Linked DNA regions of Homo sapiens: region 2 is linked to region 1. Evidence: fine-mapped expression QTL. A gene starts in region 1. The other region holds a variant in brackets. All regions are shown on one strand. Distances are between the middles of the regions. Region 1 holds the start of TTC32 (tetratricopeptide repeat domain 32). Region 2 has its middle 63 kb from the start of SDC1.

The links. PIP is the estimated chance that this variant, and not a neighbour inherited with it, causes the effect.
Region 2: its variant is fine-mapped to the expression of TTC32 in whole blood (TOPMed, PIP above 0.99).

The regions. Positions count from the first base shown.
Region 1 is chr2:19,896,058-19,908,536 of GRCh38, forward strand. It overlaps TTC32 (tetratricopeptide repeat domain 32), which reads right to left and starts at 5,926. Exons shown (of 3, transcript NM_001008237.3): 1 at 5,649-5,926; 2 at 1,812-1,978; 3 at 574-1,069. The coding sequence starts at 5,797. The coding sequence ends at 930. RefSeq lists enhancers at 4,887-5,768, 5,019-5,208, 5,349-5,408, 5,489-5,588, 5,769-6,649 and 1 more.
Region 2 is chr2:20,155,546-20,168,024 of GRCh38, forward strand. It overlaps the pseudogene RPS16P2. Among named protein-coding and RNA genes, the nearest start is that of SDC1, 63 kb to the right of the region's middle. RefSeq lists a silencer at 2,025-2,114 and enhancers at 8,694-9,194, 10,667-10,746. The variant G/C (reference allele first, on the strand shown) is at 6,691.

The DNA of each region.
Region 1 (12,479 bases):
TGAACAGTGCTTGGCTTATAGTATTCAGTAAATGTTGATAACAATTGTCATTATCCAGAGACAGAAAATATGTTCAATATTTAAATCTTAACCTATTTTTATCAATGATTACTTGAGAAAATCAAGTGTAATTCAAGCTGAACTCTTTCAAATTGTAGGACATGTTTATTTTTAAGCCTAAATGTTATGTCTCTCTAGCCTAGCTATATAAAATAGCCTTTCTCTCAAAGCCAATGCTAGGGCAAGAAAATGGACAGGGGACTAGATTAAAAGAACTGAGAGAAACATAAAAAAAAAAAATGCAATTGAAACCTGATTGGCTCTAGATCCAAATAAAAATCTACACACTTTGGAATATGGGCTGGATATGGCTGACATTACAGAATTATTCATTTTATTAGGTATTATAATGGTATTGTGGTTATAAAGGAGGATGTCCTCAATCTTAGAAAATGTAGGCTGAAATATTTAGGGGCGAAGTACTGTGACCTCGTCACCTTATTTTCAAATGTTTCAGCAAAAAGTTATATATTTAAATAGAAAAAGCAAATGTGGCACAATATTAACAACTCATGAATTTAACTGAAGAGTTTATTATACTTTCAACTTTTCTGCAGATGTAACATTTTTTAAATAAAAAGTTGAGAATAAAAAAATCACAAAAATAGTTTTGCTGAAGAAAATACCACACATTCCTTTTTACTATAATATTTAATATAATAATATACACTTATACATTGGTATTATTTACACTTCATTAAAAAAAACCCATTCAACCTGAAATTAACTACCTTAAACACACTATTTAACTTTCAGTGCTAATGTATTAATTTCTTAAATATAAATCAAAATAGCTCAATATCTAAATTACTGATAACTAGATGCAGATGTAAGGATCATGAATCAATACTTCCATTAAGTTAAAAATATCAATAATTTTTTGCAACATTTCTTCTTTGTTTTTCTTCTTTGTCTAGAATAGTCTGTTTTAAGCTCAAAGTAGCATCTTGAAATCCAGGATTTAAGTCTAAGACCTTCTTGAAATCTTCCAAAGCATCATCAAAATATCCTGTACCAGAACCCAAAAAATGGAAAAGAGAAAAGAAACCGAGTATTTCTATATATTATTCATGGAAAAGCTTTGATACATGTACTTTTGCTTTTATATTTATGAGCTTTCAGTCACTTCTAGTAAAGGAATCTTTTTATCTTAATAATATAGAGATGTGTATATCAAAGTAATTTTGTGTGCCCTTAGGGAATAATACACCTAAAATTAGCTATGGGTTTATTTATTGAGATTTAACAGGTAAATATTATCAATCATCTTAAAATTTTAATAAAACTGTATCACCTGTTTTACATAATTGCAGTAAAATTAAGAAACGGGAACTAATTTTCTTTTTGACACTTTAAATGAAGAAACACTACCTATGGTCCCTTTAATCCAAGAATCTAAACTTCACTTTCTATTGTCTTGTGTGTCTTCAAAGATTTTAACTCAGAAAAGTTTCACAGGTGAACATCTGAATTGCCCTCATTTCACAGCTGGGAATGCACAAGCACAAAGTAATGGGGTCACCCCTGCTCCTGCGCCCAGGTCCAATTCCCACCCCAGTGCTCTGCTGTGATCTATAACGCCTATCAAAAGCCTAAAATAAACTCAGGGACACTTCCTTTGTTCCAAGCTCTAAACCTAAATTTCACAGAACTTTAAAATTTGATTACCACGTTAGTTTTACAACATTTGAAAGCTCTGAAATAACAGAATACAGTCAATGACAAAACTCAAAAAGAAAAAAAATTCTTACCCAGCCTATACAGTATCAACCCTCTGTTGTAATATGGAACTTCAAAATTGGGTTGGACTTCTATGGCAGATGTGTAGTCATCCATGGCTTCATAAAAATCAACCCTGAAGTACTTGATTTGCCCCCTGTTGTTATATGCAGTAGCCAAATCCTCAGGGCTGCATTTGCTTTAAACAAAAAGTTCACATTAAAAACACCGTGTTACCAAATTCCTCTCATTTCCACTTTCATTCTCTTTTGGGTATTGTCAAACTTCACAGCCTATAACATGCAGCATCAACACTGAAAATCCAAGCTGAAGAAAAAACGTACAAATAAAGAGCTAAAATCAATTTTTGTTTAACCCTGTTATCTACTTTTGTAGGGTTATACCACTGCAATGTCAACCTGAAAAGCATACTAACTTTACAGTGTGTTCACTGCCAATTTGTTCTGCTGAATATAACATTAAAATGATTGTTCATTTTTCTAAGCACACACCAGCAGGGCAAAGAAGACAGAACAGATAAATACTAAGCAAAGAGGGAAAGCCAGCCCAAAGCCCGAGTTTGCTATGGATATGTCACAATGTGAATCAATTTCATTCTCAAATTTTTAAGTGATCTTAAAACAATAAGATTTGAAATCATTTTCCACCAATAAAAAACTAAAGTTAACGCTAAGTGAAAATTCAACATGCTACGATCCCCAGGAAGTTATCTCTGGGGACAGAGTTGCCCTCCCTCCAGCCTCAGCTGGCATCCTCCCCAATGCCAGGCTGGCTTCCTGCTAGGAGGGTGGGCTCCTTTAGACCCCCTCAGGGCTCCAGTCAATTTTGATGTCCTTTGTGCAGAACTGGCTCTGCACCTGAGGGAACTAGAGGTTGCCCAAAGAGCTTTAAATTAGCAGCCATTCCTGGGCTGTACAGCCAGGTAGCTCTGACCAGCCACCAGCTCAACAGGTCACAGCCCCTGGCTGCCTTGAACCTTTCTCTGCACAGGACAAATAGTCTGCACAGAGAACATTAGTGCCTCTGCTCTGAGTCAGGGATGATTCTGTTTCCCTTTCTTTTTTCCCAAAGCAATTCTCAAATTAGAACCAAACAGAGAATTCATCTGTCACTTCTTTGTAATACCCCGTAGTAAAAAGTATAGTCCTCCGAAAGTATCTGTGAAGGCAGTTAGTGTAAATAAAAGCTACTTCTCTTAATATCTTGATCCTTGAGATTTCAGACAGGGACTGTAACTACTGCTACCCTAAGAGGCACTCACAGCCCAAGGGCCTCCTTCAAACCAAGTTTGCTAACGATGGAGAGGAACTGTCGCAATTTTAGAAAACGTCTATTCTATGAGCTGTGATGGAGACTGGATGTAGGGATACTTCTGGATGCCACTAAGCACCCCCGTTAAAACCTAGATTACAAGACGGTACCACTCCCCTTCACCTATGTGTGACATGACACTAGTTGAACTGCTCCCAGTAGAGAGTTTAAAGAAAAAAGCAATCTCAGGATGCCAGTAAGGTTTTAGTCATTAAATCGAAGTTTCAAAATTATTGTTATAAGTTTTTAATACTAATTATATATTCGTAATATAGAGAATCATAAAATGTTAGACTTAGAATTAGATCTCATTAAATCAAATTCTAAAATCGTTTTCATGTGGAAATTTTGTTTCATATTTTAAAGAAATGGACTAACAGTTGAAGCCGAAATTTTCTGTAATATTAAAATTTTTGTAATGATAGTATTTATTATAATGGAATTCATTCAAGTTACCTAACCCAAATGTGAATTTTTAGGATTTGCTAACTTTCGCAAAAAAAAATATTTTTTATATATATATAAAGTGTGTGTATATATATTTTTTATATATAAAGTGTGTGTATATATATACACACACACTTTGGAAATTAGGTTTATGACTAAAGCTATACTTTAGATATTAAAAGAAAACGTCACAAACCATTCAGAATGAAAGGCATTCAAAAATTGCAAATATTGTTTCAAAATGATTTAGTGACCCAATACTTAGAAAATAAATGTAAGCTCCAAAAGATAAATTGAAGGGAAAAAGTTGAAATGACAGAATTCAGTTTCAATCCTTGAGTTCCTAGAATTTTATCAAAAGCTTATTTTACAGATGAAAAACTGAGGCTGAGACATTAGCCATGTGGCAGTGCCAAGACTGGAATTCAGGCATGATGAACTCCCTTCTACTGCGCTATGACAAACTGTCTTTCCTGTGCTGGTAAGGCATAGCTATTATATATGCTACAGACACTTGTGTTCTTAGGCTGAGAGGTGCAAAGAAGGAAGAATAACAAGACTAGACAGCAACAGCATACCTGATGCTGATAAATACTTTTTAAAATCTACTAGGTAAGTCTACTCTTAGAGCTTGAAACATGAATAGTTTCGCTTTCTATGTTTACTTATCTTTTTTATGGGGGAGGTGCACTGAGGAAAGTAGATGGTATCATCTTATTGCCTGTTCAGAAACTTCTATTATTATTCTTGTGTGTTATTGAAATGAGAAGGCAATTTTCTTTCTGGTTTAATTCCATGTAGCGTAACAAACAGGGTAAGAATCAAGTCCTTAGTGTTTAGTTAAGCCTCATACAAAAGACAAGCTGGCATCCTGTCCAGAAAACTCAAATCCACAACAGACAACTCACAACTATTCAAAAAGCTGTTCAACCAACCCCTCTGTTCTTTTCTCATCCTGATCCACTCCATACCATCAACAAGCCCAGTCGAGGCAAGACTTGGAGTAAAAACAAATGCTACACATCCAGGCACAAGCCGAAAAGATGCTTTGGGCAAGCAGACAGTAACAGGTGAAGCCGCTCACATCACAAAGAGAAAGTCAGCGAATCGTTATGTGCTTCCTGGTGAAAGTACACACACCCACCTAAAAAGTATTCTTGCCATGATATTGAATCTGAATTCAATTGGATCAAACCTCAAGGTTTAACCACCAATTCACAGCAATATGAGACAGATGACCACATTAAACGACAGAAGAGATTCAGTCAGCAAGTCCAAAACACGGAAATTCAAAGGACACAAGAATCGGTTTCCTCAACAAATAAAGAGGGGAAGGTGGAGAAGAGACTTAAAAAGACTTGATGTGTATCCTGACTTGAACTAACTGCGAAAAGGGAACCAAAGAACAAAACACCTTATTAGTCGATCAGAATGGTTCCAACACTGACGACTTGATATTAAGTAACTATGTGATGATGACATGGTGGTTCCTTCTGAAACATCCATGGATGAATACAATAGGTAAACTGATAATGCTTAAGCCAAGTGATAAACACCTAGACGTTCGTTATGCTCTCTTCCACATATTTAAACGTTTTTCACAAGTGAAAAACACCACCAAGAGCCTGCGCCGTGACACTGAGATGGGAGTCGCGGTACTGTGGCCCTACGCAGCCGTGACCCCTTCCCTTCCCAGGTCGCGGATTTCCCGCCAGCTAAAATCACGAGTGGAAAATTCCTATCTGTCCTAAGTCTCTGGGTGCGAATGAGGAACGTGGAAGGAGAGACGGCGGGGTGAGAGGCGGCGGCCCGCGCCCGAGGATCGCGCAGAGGGCTTGGTTCCCGGAAATCTCTCCGCACCGTCGCGGCAGCTGGCTCCTCACGGGTGGGCTTCTCCCCGCGTTCTCCGCCGCCCTCGTCCTAGGCCTCGCCTAGGCCTTTCTAGAAAGACGAACGTCCGCCCGCTCAGTCCTAGTGCTGGGTTATGACAAGCGCCGACCGTGAGCTCCAGAGGCAAAGATAGGAGCCCAAACAACCCCAACGTCGCCTCCACCCGGGGTCGCCGCGGCCCCAGGTCTCGCGATAGTTACCTCCCGGGACTCTCGTCGCTGGAGGCCGCGCAAGCGCACCGGCGAATGTAAGCGGAGTACAGTGCCTCGGCCTCCGCGTACTCTCCATTGTTGAAATGAGCCTGGGCGAGTGTTAGGGTTGCGTGGCTTTCTTGCCGCTGTCCTTCCATAGCAGCCAAGGCCTAGTTTTCGGTGTAGAATGGGGGTTGACCTCCGAGCGGTTAGAGGTGGCACCACAAAGCCACTTCCACACCCTGGAATCTACCTTGACAGCCAACCTTGGCGCTAGGTTTGTGCCTTATGGGGATCCGTCGTCTCGCGAGATAACGGTTCCGCTGCTGGCGGGGCGTTTGCAGTGGCCCTTGTGAACTATGTTTCTGCCGTTACCAGTGTTGGACCCGCCTTCCTCTTTTCCTAGAAAAGGCGCAGATGCGTGGTCGCAAACTGATTTCCAAGTCCGTTGTCTGATGCTGCGAGACACTATCCGTTTGTTACAGCGAATTGGGGGCCGATGACGCTGGAGGTGGAAGAAGCCGCGGTTCTGTTTCTTAATGGCGAATTAGCCTGCGGACGTCCTGTCATTCCCTTGCCTTTTAGCGTCCCAACTTAGCAAAACTCCGCGTTTAGGGTGTTCTGAGTAGGCTTTGTCTACCCTGAAACGCTTTGTGTCGACATTCCACCAGGTCTGTTCCACGGTCCAAACTTCTCTACCTTTTTTGACCCTCTAGAATTGTGTTACGATTAGTAGTATATTGTGTCGAGAGTCTGGGATCTTTGATGTTAGTTATATTCCCTGGCTGTTTATGCCAAAGGGAAATCCAAATAGTAATTTATTACGTACATTACGTATAATTCAAATTAAAATTTTGTAAGAACAGTTGCCAACCACGCTACCCTACATGCCTGCTGTGTATCTTCTCGGCGTCCCTCGATTCTGTTTTGCTTCCCAAAGTACTTGAGCCCTTTCCGTCATAAAAAGTAAAGATGAAAAATATATTTGGAGCATGATACTTACATGCGGAAGTCTTAACAGGACATAAATTGTGTGCTTTTGGCTGCTTTCATTAGATTTTTAATTTTTTCCTTTTACCACCACTGAAAAAAATACAAATACAGTGGATTAAGGTTAAATTAAAAAGCACTAGTAGAAATTAAAAGATTGCAAGACTACAAAAAAATAAACTGGCATTTCTGGTGTAAGCAAATGGACAGCTCAATAGAACAAAAGCCCAGAAACATACCTCAAATAGGCTGTATTTTGTAAAAGACATGTAACATATATGGGGAAAGGACAGATTATTCAAATGAGTGCTATTGGGAGGATTAGTTAACCATTTGGGGAAAAATACATTTAAGCATTTAAGCTCCCAATTGACATAATATTCATTCCAGGTGAATTAAAAGATTAAATAAATAAGATAAAAAGCTTTTTTTTTTCAGTTCCCATTTATTTTTGCCTCTTGGAGCAATGTCATCTTTTCAATATGAAAAAAACAAAACAAAAAACAAATCTGAAGTACAGGATAGAACAAAACCAAGTGTGTTGGGGGAAGCAACAGCAAAGGGAAGACAAGATGTTGCAAAAAAAAAAATGGAGGGGGGATTCCCCTCTCCTCTGGGGAATGACTCAAACACTGATGTGGCAGCGTACACTATTCTACATAAAGCCAGGGATGTTAATCCTTTTGGGGGATAAGAAAAAGTGGAGATGGCCAGGCTCTGTGGCTCATGCCTGTAATCCCAGCACTTTGGGAGGCCTAGGCGGGCAGATCACCTGAGGACAGGAGTTTGATAACAGCCTGGCCAACATGGCAAAACCCCGTCTCTACTAAAAATGCAAAAAATTAGCTGGGCGTGGTGGCGGGTGCCTGTAATCCCAGCTACTCATGAGGCTGAGGCACAAGAATCCCTTCTGGGTGGAAGTGGTTGGCAGTGAGCTAATTTTTGTATTTTTTGTGGTGATGGGTTTCCCCATGTTGTCCAGGCTGATCTCCAACTCCTGGGTTCAAGACATCTGCCCACCTCAGCCTCCCAAAGTGCTAGGACTACAGGCATGAGCCACCGCACCTGACTAGAAGTTTTGCTTTGTTCTGTTCAAGGAATAACAGGAATATTTATGTGTCTAAAAACCAGTGATCTAAGAGGAAAATAGCAGGATATGTAATGGAAATTGGGGATTTGGGAAGGGGGTTTCTAAATAGGAGTAAGATTCTTAACCTTTTTTGTGCTATGGCACCTTTACAAGTGTGGTGAAGCCTATGTCGTTTCAATGTTTTCAAGTGTTTTTAAAACATAGGATTACAAAGGAAAGGAATTATATTAAAAAACAGTTGGAATATTAACAGATTTATTAAAAAGTAAAACATTTATTAACATTAAATATCAAGAACAAATGGCAAACACAAAACTAGCAGAGGAAGAAAATAATAAAAGATCAAAACACAGATAAAACAAAAATGGAATCAACAAAACCAAAAGTTGGTTCTTAAAAAGATTAAAAAAGTTAATAAAACTTGAGCTAAATTGACTACGAAAAAGGAAAAGACTCAGATTACTAAAATCAGAAATGAAAATGGGAACATTACCATCAATTCTACAGAAATAAAGAGGATTATAAGAGAGTACTATGAACAATTGTATGCTGAAAAATGGGAGTAACTACATGAAATGAGCAAATGCCTAGAAACAAAAAACCTACGAAGATTGTATCATGAAGAAATAGAAAATATGAATAGACGTGTGTATTAGTCTGTTCTCACACTGCTAATAAAGACGTACCCAAGACTGGGTAATTTTTTTGTTTTTAAGAAAAAAGAGGTTTAATGGACTCACAGTTCCACGTGGATGGGGAGGCCTTATAATCATGGCAGAAGGCAAACAGCACGTCTTACATGGCAGCAGGCAAGAGAGAATGAGAGAACAGTGAAGGGGGAAATCCCTTATAAAACCATAAGATTTTGTGAGACTTAGTCACTACCATGAGAACAGTATGGGGGAAACTGCCCCCATGATTCAGTTTTTTCTCCCACCGGCTCCCTCCCACAACATGTGGGAATTATGGGAGCTACAATTCAAGATGAGATTTGGGTGAGGACACACACAAACCATATCAACCTGTAACTTGTAAGGAGATTCAATCAGTAATCTAAAAATAACCTCTTGACAAAGAAAAGCCCTGGACCTGATGGCTTCACTGATGAATTCTACTAAATGTTTAAGGAAGAACCAACACCAGTCCTTCTTAAGATTCCATTTAAAAAATGGTTATAACTAATGAATTCAGCAAGGTAGGAGGATATGAAATCAACATGCAAAAATCAGTTGCATTTTTATTCACTAACAATGAAGCTATCCAAAAATGAAATTAAGAAAACAATTCCAGCCAGGCACAGTGGCTCACACCTGTAATCCCAACATTTTTGGAGGCCAAGGTGGATGGATCACTTGAGGTCAGGAGTTCGAGACCAGCCTGGCCAACATGGCAAAACCCTGTATCTACGAAAAATACAAAATTTAGCCAGGTGTGGTGGCAGGCACCTGTAATCCCAGTTACTCAGGGGGTGAGGCAGGAGACTCACTTGAACCTGGGAAGTGGAGGTTGCAGGGAGCCAAGATTGTGCCTTGCACCACTGCACTCCAGCCTGGGCAACAGAGCAAGACTCTGTCTCAAAAAAAAAAAAAAGAAAGAAAAGAAAACAATTCCATCTACAGTAACATCAAAAAGAAAAAAATATTTAGGAATTAATCAAGAAAGTAAAAGATGTGTACAATTAAAACTATAAAACATTGCTAAAAGAAATTGAAGAAGACATAAATGGAAAGACATCTCATGTACATGGATTAGAAGACTTAATATTGTTTAGATGTTAATATTATATAAATCAATCTTCAGATTCTATGGAATCCTTATCAAAATCCCAATGATGTTTCTGCAGAAATAGAAAACTCCATCCTCAAATTCATATGGAATTACAAGGACTCCCAAATAGCCAAAACAATTTTGGAAAAAGAACAAAGTTTAAGGACTCACTTCCTGATTTCAAAACTTACTGCAAAGCTGCATTACCCAAAACAAGTGTGTTATTGGCATAAAGACAGTTTTTTAAACAAATGGTGCTAGGAAAATTGGATATCCACTACAAAAGAATGAAGCTGGTCTCTTACACCATATACAAAAATTAAAATAGATCATGACCTAAATATAAGAACTAAAATTACAAACTCTTAGGAAAAAACATATGGCAAAAGCTTAACAACACTGAATTTGGCAATGATTTTGTGAATATGACATCAATGGCACAGGCAACAAAAGAAAAAACTACACAAATTGGGCTTGACAAGAATTTAAAAACCTTTGTGCATGAAAAGACACTATCAGAGTAAAAAACAGAATATTTACAAGTCATGTATCTGATAAGGGATTAATACCCACACTATATAAAGAACTTCCAAAAACAACAATAAAGCAAAACAATCCAATGCAGAAATGGGCAAAGGATTTGAATAGACTTTTCTCTAAAGAAGATACACATATGGCCAATGAGAACATGAAAAAATGCTCAACGTCACTAATAATTAGGGAAATGCAAATTGAAACTACAATCAAATACCACTTCTCACCACTCCAGTAGGATGGAAACTATTAAGAAGAAATAAGTGTTGGTGAGGATGTGAAGAAACTGGAATCTTTATGCACTATTGGTGAGAATGTAAAATGGTGCAACCACATGGTGTGACAATTCTTCAAATACTAAGAATAACCATTTGATTCAGCAATTCCACTTCTAAGTATATACCCAAAATATCTGACAGCATGGTCTTAAAGAGATATTTACACATCCAGGTTCATAGCGGTATTGTTCACACTAGGTAAAATGTGGAAGCAATCCAAGTGTCTATCAACAGATGAGTGGATAAGCGAAATATGGTATACTCATACAATGGAATATTATTCAGTCTTAAAAAGAACAAATTCTGCCACGTGCTACAACATGGATGAAACTTGAGGACATTACATGAAGTGAATTAAGCCAGCCACAAAAAGACTGAATGATTCTATTTTTATGAGGTACCCAGAGTAGTCAAATTCATAGAGACAGAAAGTAGAATGTGGTTGCCAGGGACAGCTTTAAGGGGGATAGGGAGTTATTGTTCAATGAGCATACAGTTTCAGTTTTGCAAGATAAAGAATTCTGAAGATGGATGGTGGTGGTGGTGGTGGTGGTGGTGGTGGTGGTGGTGGTGGTGGTGGTGGAATATGAACAATATGAATGTACTTAATAAATATAGTTAATGCCACTTTAACTGTACACTTAAAAATGATTAAGATAGGCAAGGTGCAGGATCTCATGCCTGTAATGCCAGCACTTTGGGAAGCTGAGGTGGGAGGATTACTGTGCTAAGGAGTTTGAGGCTGCAGTGAGCTATGATTGTGCCACTGCACTCCAGCCTGGGTGACAGAGCTAGACCACGTCTTGTAAAAAATTTAAAAAAAATTTAAAAATGATTAAGATAGTAAATTTTGTGCTATGTCTATTTCATCACATAAAAAATATGGAAAAATCAAGTGGCAAGTGTGTTTTCTGTAAAAAGATCGTTGCAACAACATTGCATTGAAGTCATTATTACTGTATTTCTATTGATTTTGTTGCATCCACTGCAGTTTCTGCTTTATAAAGGTGGTTGCTACGAGCATAGATATTAGGTGTTATATCTATGTCTACAGATACTCTTACATGTTACATTGTCACTGTGAATAGCAGTTTTTAGCATTATCAAGTATTCTTGCTTGTAGTACTTAACTCACCACATCAACAAATTGAAGAAAAATCTCAACAGATGTAGAAAATGCAGTTAATAAAATTCAACTCCTTAGCAAACTAGGACAAGAAGACATACTTATTAAAACCTACCGACAAAATGTCTACAGAAAATATAATAAGCAATGATTTCTTAAAATATTGAAAAATTTCCTTTGAGATTAAGAATAAGACAAGAATGCCCAGTATCATCACTTTAATTATTCAGCATTGTATTGGGTATCCTAGCCAGTGCAATAAGATGATAAAAAGAAATGAAAGACATGACAATTGAGAAGTATTTTTTTTAAAAAAAGCAGTCATTAAACATGGTTATATAGTTGTATATGTAGAAAAGAAGTGCAAAGGACTGAGAGTGACAAAACATTTTTGAAGAAGAAAAACAAAGGAGGACTTGTACCAGATAGCAGGACCTATTTTAAAAACTATAATAACTGAGACATTCTGCTTTGGGCCAAAGAAAGACAAACAGATCAATGGAACAGAAAAAGAAATCAGAAATTGTTACCTACATATATGGACTTGATTTTTTTCCCATATAATTGCACATCAGTGTGGAAAGGGTGGACTTCAATCAGCTGGAGGTATCATTGACATTAATTTCTTTTAACTTTAGAGAAATCTCTTAGGAGCTGATATCTCTCAGCATAAAGACATAATACAGCAATTTATTCAGTCTCACCTCAGTTTCTTTTTCTTCTGTTAAATTCAACTAAAATAGAAATCTCTTATTAAAAAAATAAAACTACCAATGTTAAATGGGCAATTTGATGAGTTTTAACAAATGTGGAGTCATGTAATCATCACCAAAACCAAGATATGGAACATTTCTATCATCCCACAATGCTCCTTTGTATACCTTTGAAGTCAATCACCTACCCTTCTCCCTGATCTCAGGCACTACTTTCTATGATTTTGTCTTTTCTGGAATTTCATATAAATAACATCATACAGTATGCTGTCTTCTATATCTGGCTTCTTGCACGTAGCACAATGCTTTTAAGATTCATCTATGTTGTTACTTGTGTCAGTT
Region 2 (12,479 bases), 260 kb after region 1:
TGACCTCAGGTGATCCGCCCACCTCAGCCTCCCAAAGTGCTGGGATTACAGGTGTGCACCACTGTGCCTGGCCTATTGGTAGGATTTCTAGTAGCGAGCACAGGCACCAGAGCTTCCAAACTTTTTGGACTCACAGCGAAGGAGGCCAGCTACCAGCAAGGTCTGGTCATTCTGGATGAGGGTGTCTTTGATATCCTTCTTGGAAGCCTCATCCATATATTTCTGGTAATAGGCCACCAGGGCTTTGGAGATGGACTGATGGACAGCACAAATCTGGGCCACATGACTACCACCCTTCACATGAACACAAATGTTCACACCAGCAAATCGCTCTTTGCCCAGAGCAGAAGTGGTTCCAGCAGCTTGTATTGTAGCATATGCAGCTCGATCATCTCCAGGTGCCACCCATTCACCTTGATGAGGCCATTGCTGTGTTTGCCGGGCGCCACAGCTGTGGCCCTTTTCTTGCATCCAAAGACCTGCGCATACTGCAGTGGGCCCTTGGACAGCATGGCTACAGGCATACATTAGAGATCCTCACTGCACAGAGCTGCAACCAGAAAAGGAAGAAAATTATTTCAAAAAGGAAATACATTTGTGTGTGTTTGCAATCTTCCATGATACTTTTTTAAATGAGGCAGCGGACACCTGTGTCAGTTGCTGCTGAGAGTTGAATTAAGCGAGGCAAGAGAAATGTACATTTGCATTTTGCAGCATAGAGCCCATCTTGACAAGAGCAGTTTCAGTAGAGTGGTGGAGACAGAAGGGAGCTGGAATGGGCGTGAGTGGCTTAACATGATAATAATAGCTGAACTTATATAAAACTTACTATGTGCCAGACACTGATCTAAGTGCTTTACATATATTAATCTGTGCAACAGCCCTTTGAGATAGGTACAATTATTATCCTATTTTACAGATAAGGAATAGATCTTTAAGTAATTTGTCCAAGATCACACACATTAGGAAATGACAAAACTGGAATTTGAACCCAGACAAAACTGGTTGATCTGGCTCCAGGAAATAGAGGCAACCCTTTTGAGAAATCTTGTTATAAATGGTGTATTAATTAAGATAAGGCCAGATGTTGTAACACATAAACCACCAAAATCTATTTAGCTTGACTAAATAGAAGTTTATTTCTTCTCTTTTAAATTCCAATCAGTGATAGGAGTGGGAGAAGTGAGGATAGAGCTCTGCTCCATACAGTTATTCAGGGATCTAAGCACTTACCTTATGGCCTAGACATCTTCTTCAACACACAGCACCCTTAGTTGCCCTAGGTGTCAACATCAACCTGGCAGAAGAGGAAAGAGAATATGGAGGATCGTGTAGAAGAATTTTATGGGCCATACCTGGAAGTTGCGTACACCACTTCTGCCCACATTCTGTTATCCAGACCTCAGTCACATGTTCTCATGAGTATGCAAAAGGAGCCAGGAAGTGTGGTCCTTGGCTGGGCAGCCACTGCCAGCAGCAGCACTACACTGTGCAAAGAGGCCGTGGATTTTTGGTGGACAGTTGTCTGTCTACCCCATTGAGCAAAGACATAGTGAGAAAGGTATGTGTGAAAGGAGATTTGTTTTTGAATATGGGAAATACTGGAGCATGTTTGTGTACTGACAAGAATGACAGAGTAGGGAGGGGGAATCTAATGATGCAGGAGAGAGAGGATAATTGCAGGAGCAAAGTCCTCAGCAAGGTGATAGCAGGTGAAGGGATTGTCCTTTGAAAGGAGCAGGAGGGAGGCTGAGAGGTTGGCAGGGTGAGGGAAAATTGTTGTTGGCACATATTCAAGGAGGATTGGCGATTTCATCGTGGGAGGCACAGTTGTCCCTGGCTGAGGGCTTCTGGGTTTTTTTGGTTGAAGTGTTAAGAAAGGTCATCAGCTGGATGTGACGTGGGGAGAGGATGTGGGGGATGGGAAGAGCGAGAATGTACGAAATAATCATTTTAGACAGAGAAAAGAAACTTAGTAGAGAAACATTTTAGAATTACCCGGCTGTGTTGCATGACCATTTGAGGTTTGTGGTTATGCATATAAAATGAAAATTACCTCCAGAAGTTGTGTGTGTGTGTGTGTGCTTACATTAATGGTGTCTATCATTCTCTGTGTATTATTTAGCAACTTGCTTTGTGTCTTTCCTGTGTGCTGTACGTTCAGTATTCCACAGAATGGATGCACCAGAGTTTATTCAGCCATTCCCCAGTGATGACAGCTAGGTCATTTCCAGTTCTTTACTAGAAAGCTGCAGCAAGGATTCTTTGCCTGCTGCCTCGTGCACACATGACTGTTTCTCCAGAGGTACACCAAGAAGTAGATTTGCTGGATCATAAGGGAAATAGAAGTTTTAATAGATTCTATCAAATTGCCCTCCAAAGTGACTTTACCAATTGATACTCCCATCAGCAGAATATGAGACTACTGCCCACATCTTCATCTGCCCTACATTCAATCAAACTTACTATTTTGCTTGTCTGGTCGAATAAAAAATGTTTTTTCATTATTTTAATTTACATTTCCTTTATTATCAGGGATATTGCAGCTTCCCATAGATTTTTGGCCATTTGAATCTCTCCTCTTGTGATTTTTCCTTTCATATTCTTTTCCTGTTTTCCTAAGCATTGTTTACTTTTTCATATTGACTTATAGCAGATTTTTACATATTTTGAATGTTGTTTGTATATTGTAATTATTACAATTTTTTTAGTTGGTTGCTAGTTTTCAATTTTGTTGATGGTGTCTTTTTTTTTTTTTAAGAGACAGAGTCTCACTCTGTCACCCAGGCTGGAGTACAGTAGTGCAATCACAGCTTACTGTAGTCTCAAACTCCTGGGCTCAAGTGATCCTCCCGCTTCAGCCTCTCAAGTAGCTGAAACCACACATATGCACCACTACACCTGGCTTTTTTTTTTTGTGGAGACAGGGTCTCACTCTATTGACCAGGCTGGTCTCCAACTCCTGGACTCAAGCAATCCTCCCCTCTCAGCTTCCTAAAGTGCTGGGATTACAGGTGTGAACCACTGCACTGGGTCATGTTGATGGTACTCTTTGATGTCGTTAAATTTATTCATATCTTCCTTAATGCTTTTATATTAAGTGCCTTATTGCACAAGCTTTCCCTATCACTAATTCATAAAAATAATATCCTATATTTTCTTCTAATTCTTTTGTAGTTTTTTAAATTAAAGTCTTAATTTTGAGATAATTGTAGCTTCACATGCAGTTGTAAGAAGTAATACAGGAAGATCCATGTTCCCTTAATCCGGTTTCCCCCAATGGTAACATCTTGGAATATCACAACTAGGACACTGATATTGGACTCGACGTTGATACAGTCAAGATACAGAATGATTTCCCCACCACAAAGAGCCCTTGTGTTGCCCTTTTAGAACCACACCCACTTCTCTTTCCCCCACTCCTTTGTCCACTGCCATCCCCTCTTTAACTCTGGCAACCACTAGTCTGCTCTCCATTTCTATAATTTTGTCATTTCAAGAATGTTATATAAATAGAATCAACTGTATGGGACCTTTTGAGATTGACTTTTTTTCAGCCAACATAATGCCCTGAAGATTCATTCAGGTGGTTTTGTGTATCGATAGCTTCTTCCCTTTTATTGCTGAGAAGTAATCCATGGTGTGCTTGCACTCCATTTGCTTAACCATTCATTCATTGAAGGATATCTGGGTTGTTTCCAGTTTGCAGATATTTTTGTACAAGTTTTTGTGTGAACATAAGTTTTCATATCCCTGGGATAAACATTGAAAAGTACAATTGTTAAGACTTGTGATAGTTGCACACCTAGTTTTTTAAGAAACTTCCAAATGATTTTCCAGTGGCTATGCCATTTTACATTCCCATCTGCGAAGTATAAGTGATCCAATTTCTTCATATCCTGGTCAGCATTTGATGTTGTCACTATTTTTTATTTTAGCCATTTTGATAGATGTGTGTTGATATCTCATGTGGTTGTCTTGGCACTTTCCTAATGGCTAAGGATGTTGACCATCTTTTCATGTGCTTATAACCAGGAGTACCAGGAGTACACTCTCTTTGGCTAAATGTCTGTTCATGTCTTTTGCCCATTTTTGAATTCGATTCTTTGTTTTTTATTGTTCAGTTTTGAGAGAAATGTATGTATTCTAGGCTCTAGTCCTCTGTGTTTTGCAAATATCTTCTCCCAATCTTTAGATTGTCTTTTTATTCTCTGTACAGGGTCTTTCACAAAGCAAAAGTTTTCAGTTTTGATGAAGCCCAATTTATTGATGTTTCCTTTTATGGATAATACTTTTGGTGTCAAGGCTGAGAACTCTGTCTAGCCCAAAACCACAAAAATGTTTCTCCCATGTATTTTCTTCCTAAAAGTTTTGTAGTTTTAGGTTTCACATTTATGTTTGTGATTCATTTTGAGTTAATTTTTTTATACAGCCTGGAGTCTAGGTCAAGGTTCACTTTTACCTATGGATGTTCAGTGGTTCCAGGACCATTTGTTTACAAGGCTATCCTTCATCCATTGGATTGCGTTTGCATCTTTTTCAAAACTCGGTTGCGCATATCTGTGTAGGTCTATTTCTGGATTTTCCATCCTTTCCCATTGATTTATGCTTCCATCCCTCCACCAATATCACACAGTCCTAATTATCATAGCTATATAACATCTTGGAATTGGGTAGACTAATTCCCACTTAGTTCTTCTTTTTCAAAAAAAGTATGTGTATATATTATTTACTTCATATGCTTTATCACAAAACCACAAAAACAATCTCCTACATTTTATCCTAATTCTTTTGCAGTTTAAAAAGATATATTTAGTTCTTTAAGTAACCTGGAATTTATTATTATGACTGGTGTGAAGTAGAAATTAAACTTGACTTTCATTTTCTGCAGTTGTTTCTCCTAAAATATTTAATTGAATGTTTTGTCACTCATCTGAAATACCAACTGTATCATACACTAAGTTTCTACATATTCGAGGGTCTGTTTGTGCACTCACTATCCTATTACTTTGGTCTATTTGTCTATTTAATCCTATATTATTTTTAATTCTCTAACTTCATAATATGTTTTGTTAAAGTAAATTAAAATGGAGACCAGACCTGAAGAATCCCTACACAGACAAAGGCAGTTAGGATAAGTGACCTTAACCTTGTTTGATTTGTAAACATGAGTGAAACTTAACCTGGGCCATTTCTTATAAATACTTTTTTTTTTTTGAGACAGGGTCTTGCTCTGTTGCCCAGGCTGGAGTATAGTAGTGCCATCTTGGCTCACTGCAGCCTCGATCTCATGGGTTCAAGCAATCATCCTGCCTCAGCCTCCTGAAGTGCTGGGATTACAGGTGTGAGCCACTATACCTGGCCCCAAATGCCTATGTCAAAGAAAAATAGAATTTAAGCTCAACTAATCGGAAGCAGCCAACAAACTTATATAACTGGGAACAGTTTCCAACAGGATAAGCCAAAGAAGGCAAGTGTATAACTACAACCAATCAAATTTTTTTTGCTTTACTTCCCTTTTCATCCTATAAAAGCCTCCCTCTTGTAGTCCCTCAGTGAAGCTTCCCAACCACTTCTGGTTTGGAACCCAATTCATAAATCTCTGTCTACTCAAATAAACTTATTAACATTTTGTTGTGCCTCAATTTACCTTTTTAATACTTTTTTTTTTGACAGAATCTTGCTCTGTCACCCAGGCTGGAGTGCATGGCGGCATCTCGGGTCACTGCAGCCTCCACCTTCTGGGTTTAAGTGATCCTTGTACCTCAGCCTCCTGAGTAGCTGGGATTACAGGTGCACACCACCATGCCCGGCTAATTTTTTGTATTTCTTGTAGAGACAGGGTTTTGCTATGTTGGCCAGGCTGGTCTCAAACTCCTGGCCTCAAGTGATCTGCCCACCTCGGCCTCCCAAAGTGCTGGGATTACAGGTGGGGGCCACCATGCCTGGCCACATTTTTAATAGTTTTGATATCTGGCAGGATAAGTTCCCCTTTACTGTTCTTCCTTTTCAAAAGTCTTTTCTTATGCATTTTTTCCATGTGAATATTAATCATCATCTGTCTATTTTAATGAAGAATTCCAGTGAGATGGTTGTTGGGATTGCGCCAAATTTATAGATAATTTTATAAGGGATATTTTTATAATATTGAAATTTCCCAATGTAGTAGAATATATATCTCCCTTTATTTAGGTCTTTTATGTCCATCATTAAGTTTTACTGTTTTCTTTGTAAGTTTCTTGCATTTCTTTTTAGGACTGGTACTAAATATTTTGTGAATTTTAATTGTGCTGTACAGAGGATTTTGTTAACATATAATATCAAGTTGGTCACTATCATATAGGAACACAGCCTTTCACATAGCTGTTCACATGAGATACTCAGGAACCTTCTGTGGTAAGCAATGTTTGAACTGTCTTGTGGAAGAAGAGACTGAAGCTCAGAGAAGGAAGCCTGGGGCCAAATGCGGGTCCCCCAGGTCCAAGTGCCAGGCACAGAAAGCTTCCACTCCAGGGAAGGCTCTCGAATGTGCAGACAGTGGAGCTGCAGGGTCTCCCTTTGGCTTACAGAGTGTGGACCCAGCAGACAGTTCCTGGCCTCCCAGCGAGGCTCCAAGAAGACCTAACTACAGCCCCATTTCCCCGCTGCTTCATCTTTGTCTGTCACAGGCAAGGTCTGCCTTTCTCTTCA[G/C]GGGGACAAGTGCCTGGCTCTGTGACCAAGGCAGAGCCCAACTTGGTAAATGGATGCTATGGTCATTAAAAGATTAGAGGGTCATTAAACTATGGGTTTGGTGATGGGGGTCAGGTGGCTGAGCATTCCCTGAGGACAAGGTGAGAGATTAGTATGGAGGAGACTGGTTAGAACCAAATTCCTGGCTTGGGCAGCAAAGGGGTTCAGGAATGAAGGAGACCAGCCCTCAGGTTCCAGGGTGAATAATGACACCCTCTACAGGGAGGCAGGCCAGAGAGCAGGAATTGAGGGGTCGGGCCAGTGGTTTGGGAGGCACATGAGGTGGGGTGCGGAGTGGGATGGTCTGGGAGCCTGAGGAGCAAGAGAGCTGTAGATCACATCTGTGGGTTAGAAGTGAGCTAGGGGAGTTTATCATGTGTGTGATCCTTGGCTTCTCTGTTTATTTCCTTGCTTATCTCACTCAGGATTCATCATGGTGTCAGTAAAAGACCTAGCCTGTGTGAGGAGGCCAAGCGAGGCAGGATGGGTACCCTGGGGCCAGCATCTTGCAGAGGTGTCAGTGGGAAGCAGGATGAGGGAGTTCCTCAGAAAGAAGGAGACTCACGGCTGGAATCCCACCTACTCTTCTTTGCCTGAAATACTCATTTCGGTTGCACCATGCAGATTCAGGGTTTGGTACTAATGAAGATTATTTAGCTTCTTAGCTTTGTGATCATAGCTATTTTCCCAACTGCAAAATAGGGATAATAATTCTACCAAGTTCCCCAAATTGTAGAATGCTCATCACTGGAGATTTGGGGTGGTATGATAGATTATTTTATATAGTACATGGCCATACCTTTAAACAATGATAAATAACATAGTGAGAAATACATCCCTTTTTTCTTTTCCCCCAAATTTGCCTGATGACATAAGGAGAAAGTCTCCTCCTCAGAATGCCTCAGCCTCAAAAAGGGCATCCGAAAGGCAATACAATGATAACATCGTACTGAATTTTGCAGATATTCATGACAAGTGATAATGAATATAAAACTTCCTTTAAAGGTAAGTGGGTTTGGGTTGGGCGCGGTGGCTCATGCCTGTAATCCCAGCACTTTGGGAGGCCAAGGCAGGCAGATCACTTGAGATCAGGAGTTGGAGACCAGCCTGGCCAATGTGGTGAAACCTTGTCTATACTAAAAATACAAAAATTAGCTGGGCGTGGTGGTACGTGCCTGTAATCCCAGCTACTCGGGAGGCTGAGGCACAAGAATTGCTTGAACCCAGGAGGCGGAGGTGCAGTGAGCCAACGTTGCACCACTGCACTCCAGCCTGGGTAACGGAGCGAGACTCCGTCTAAAAAAAGTTAGCGGATTTAAGCTTATCTAAAGGTAACTGATATAAAAGAAAATTGATTTAAAGAAAAGAAATAAGAAATTGTACAGGTGGTGTGCAAAAGACAAGGCAGAAATCTTACATGTGGTAAGCAAAGGATCCAAGTTTGGGGTTCAGGGTAGTGGTGTGGGGAGGTGTAAATGGAAATAACACACTCAAAGGCTCAGCCCAGTACCTGGAACATAGAAAGGGCTCTCTCAATGATGCATGACAATAACTGTCGTTCCCTTTAAGTGAAGCTTGCCAGATTCAGCAAATAAAATCAGTGCACTCCCAGTTTAATTTGAATTTCAGACAAACAATAGGATTTTTTAAGTATAAGTATGTCCCATGCAATATTGGGAACATATTCATCCTAAAAAAGTATTTATTATTTAATTAAAATTTAAATGGAACTGAGTGACCTGTGTTTTATCAGGCAACCCTACTTCTCATGCCTTCCCTGGAATGCGGGAGAATTGGACGTGGCTTAGAGACCCTGGGATGTCACCCGGGATGCCTATCCCCCACCAGAGACTTGGGCAGAAGATGGTCAGGGGATGTGAAAGTTCCCGAGGAGGCCAGAGCATGCTGAGGGCAGCCTCCAGCCGGGACATTAGACACCCCTGCCCTCCCCACAACCCTGGCTCTGCCACTTGACTCTCCAGTTTCCTGTGTCCTGTCTTCCACCTGGCTGTGATGGGGAGGGGACCAGAGTGGCCCGGGAGTGAAGTGTATTACAGACAGACAGACAGGAGCTAGGAACACTCAGGAATTCGCTACGTGATGTTGAAGGCTTTCCACAGGGACCTGGGCCCAGAGACACTCAGTGGAAGAGGTTTTACAAATATCAGGCTGAACCTGGCCCTCCTCTTCACCTCCCTCCCCATCTGCACTGAGCCAGCCAAGGAAACCTCTTCCATCCATAGAAGGGCGGGAGCTTGGCCAGCAAAGGGGACTCAGGCTTTGTCACTTTTCCTTTCATTACCCTCCCTGGCCATGCTGAGCAGGGGTCCTCTGCCAGGCCACAGCGGCAGATGTCCTGGTCCTTCTCAAGGAGCCATCCCTACATACTCACACACACCACACTCACAGCACACACACCACAGACACACCACACTCACCACACATTCGCACCACACACACCACACGCACAGCACACACACCACAGACACACCACACTCACCACACATTTGCACCACACACACCACACTCACAGCACACACACCACAGACACACCACACCACACTCACCACACACCCCACATACACCACATTCACACCACACACAACCACATATACACCACACACACCACACACCACACATACACACCACACACAGCACACTCACACCACACACATCACACTCACAACACACCACACTCAACACACACACCATGCTCACCACACACTCACACCACACACACTCACAACACACACACCACACTCACCACACACACCACACATACACACCACACACACCACACTCACAACACACACACCACACTCACCACACTCACCACACATACCACACTCACACCACACACATACCACATACCACACTCACCCCACACACATACCACATACCACACTCACCACACACACATCACACTCACCACACACTCCCACCACACACACACCACATTCACAACACACACTCATACCATACTCACAACATTGACATCACGCACACAGCACACTCACCACACACTTGCACCATAAACACACCAGACTCACAACACAACACACACCACACAACACACACCACACTTACCACAAACAACACATACTCATACTATACTCACAACACACACTGACACCATACACATACCACACTCACCACACACACCACACTCACAACACACGACACATGAAACAACACACACCCACACCACAGACATGCCACACAACACACAACACACTCATATCACACTCAGTACACACAACTCACACCATACCACACTCACAACACACAACACACACTCATTCTATACTCAACATATACTGACACCACACACATACTATACTCACACACTCACATCACATACACACCACACACAACACACTCACATCACACACTCATCACACACAATACACACAACACACAATACACACTCACACGACACACCACATATATATACCACAGTCACCACACTCGCACCACACACAAACTCAAACACACATCACACACACTGCACATTCATACCACACTCACACAAAACACACAGCACACTCAAACCATACCCACACCACACACACCACACTCAATACACGCACCACATTCATACCACACTCACAACACACAACACACTCATACCACACTCACAACACACAACACACACACCACACTCATACCACACTCACAACACACAACACACTCATACCTCCCTTACAAGATGGATTCACAACACACACTCACAACACACCACATACAACACAGACACTACACACACCCACACTCACCACACACAACACACTCATAACACACACACCATACACATACACAGCATACACATACACACGTGTATCCACGTTCACACCACACACACCACACAAGCATACACACACACACCACACCACATACACACATATACTACACCCCACATACCCACACCATATACACACACCACATGCACATACAACACACACACACCACACATATGCACCACATATATATATACACACTCACAAAACACACACACACACACATTGTTAGCTGCAGCAAAGCGTGACTGACCCCTTCCACTTGCTAACTCAGCTCTTTGCAGGGGATGGGGATCTTCAGCCCAAGACTTCAAGCAATGCTCCCTGTCTCTGAGCTGAGAGGCCAAGCAGGAGGATGTGGTCATAACTGCACCCACCTGTGTACTCAGCTCCCCTCCCCCGCCCCAGGCCGCTGTGTCTCTGTGCTCTACCGTAGAACCCACTTAAACTCTCCCCATCTCCTGGGGGCTGACCCTGCCTGCCAAGGACATCGTGAGGGAGCAGGGTTTAAATGAGATGCACTCTCATTTAAATTAAACAGCAGGAGCCTGTCACAATCTCAAGGGAGAAAGACCTCAAAAATTTGTGGATGCTCATGTCTGGAAAAGGGCGACTGTGGTTCATACCAAACTGAGAAGAAAGAGATTCATGAGCCCAGCCTGCCCCACGGCATTGATCAGCCCCGTTACTCACATCCACAGAGCAGGGTGACACAGCCACTGCCTAATGCTTACTCATGCACTGCCTTCTAGCCTGGGTGTCTGGTGTGTGTGTGTGTGTCCTTCCTGGATAAACTGAAATCCCTCTACAGCAGAGAGACCTCTCCTTCCTCAGTGGCCTCATGGAGATACAATAGGTGTGTAATAATTACTGCCTGTCCTGCTCAGAGCTTCTGAGCATTCCAACGTGTGTGTGTGTGTGTGTGTGTGTGTGTGTGTGTGTGTGTACAAGGAAGTCTAGCTCCCATATCTGCTCTTAATGGTGTTACAATTTTTTTTTGAGACAGAGTCTTGCTTTGTCACCCAGGCTGGATGCAGTGGTGTAATCATAACTCATTACAGCCCCATACTCCTAGGCTCAAGCAATGCTCCATCTCAGCCTCACAAGCAACTGGGACTACAGGCATGCGCCACCACACCTGGCCAGCGTTACTACCACTGCACACCTTCCTCTCCGTCCTCCAGTCACATACAGAGAGCCCTGAAGTAACCACAGACAGTGGTCATGTCTCCCAGCCCATTGGAAGCCTCGGTAGAAGGAGGTCCCCTGTGGCTCCTCTCACCCCCTTGTCCCCAGATGTCCCCACAGGGACCCATTCTTGAGATGGGGAGCAAGCCTTCCCCTCAGGCCTCCCTCTGTATCCAGGCATGGCCACTCAGGCCTTCTGCTCCTCTTCTTCAGGCCCTGCCTTGGCTGTTATGTCCTATCCATCCTCTCTCTGACTGTGCCCAGAGAACGAGGGAGTCTGACTTCAGATTTTACAGACAGAAGATATCCCAGGAATGTGTCCATCACATCGCCAAGCCAGCCCCTGTCAGTACAAGGCCAGCGTGGAATGAAGCTGAGTCTCTCTCTCTTCACCTGGAGTCCAGTGCTCATCCATGGCCATCGCTGTGTGCCAAGGATGTAGGGGTTGGCCAGGCCCAGAAAAGGGGATGTGGGCAGTGTGGGAAGAAAGAAAAAAAGCCCTCCAAATACCGGAAGATGGGCACAGTGAGCTCCACGAGCCAGCCACAGCTCACCTTGCCATCTTTACCTTTCCCATCTTGGTGGGTAGGGTGGGGGTGCCCTGAGCACTGCACAGGACGGAGGGTGCTTCAGGGCCACCGCAGCTGTGACCAGCATTTGGCTGAGAGATAAACCCTCCCCAGCCAAGAATGCCACCCCTGGAACCTCCCCTCCCTAAAAGCTTAGTGGCAATTCTAGCAACTCGGGGGTCAGGCAGTGCTGGAC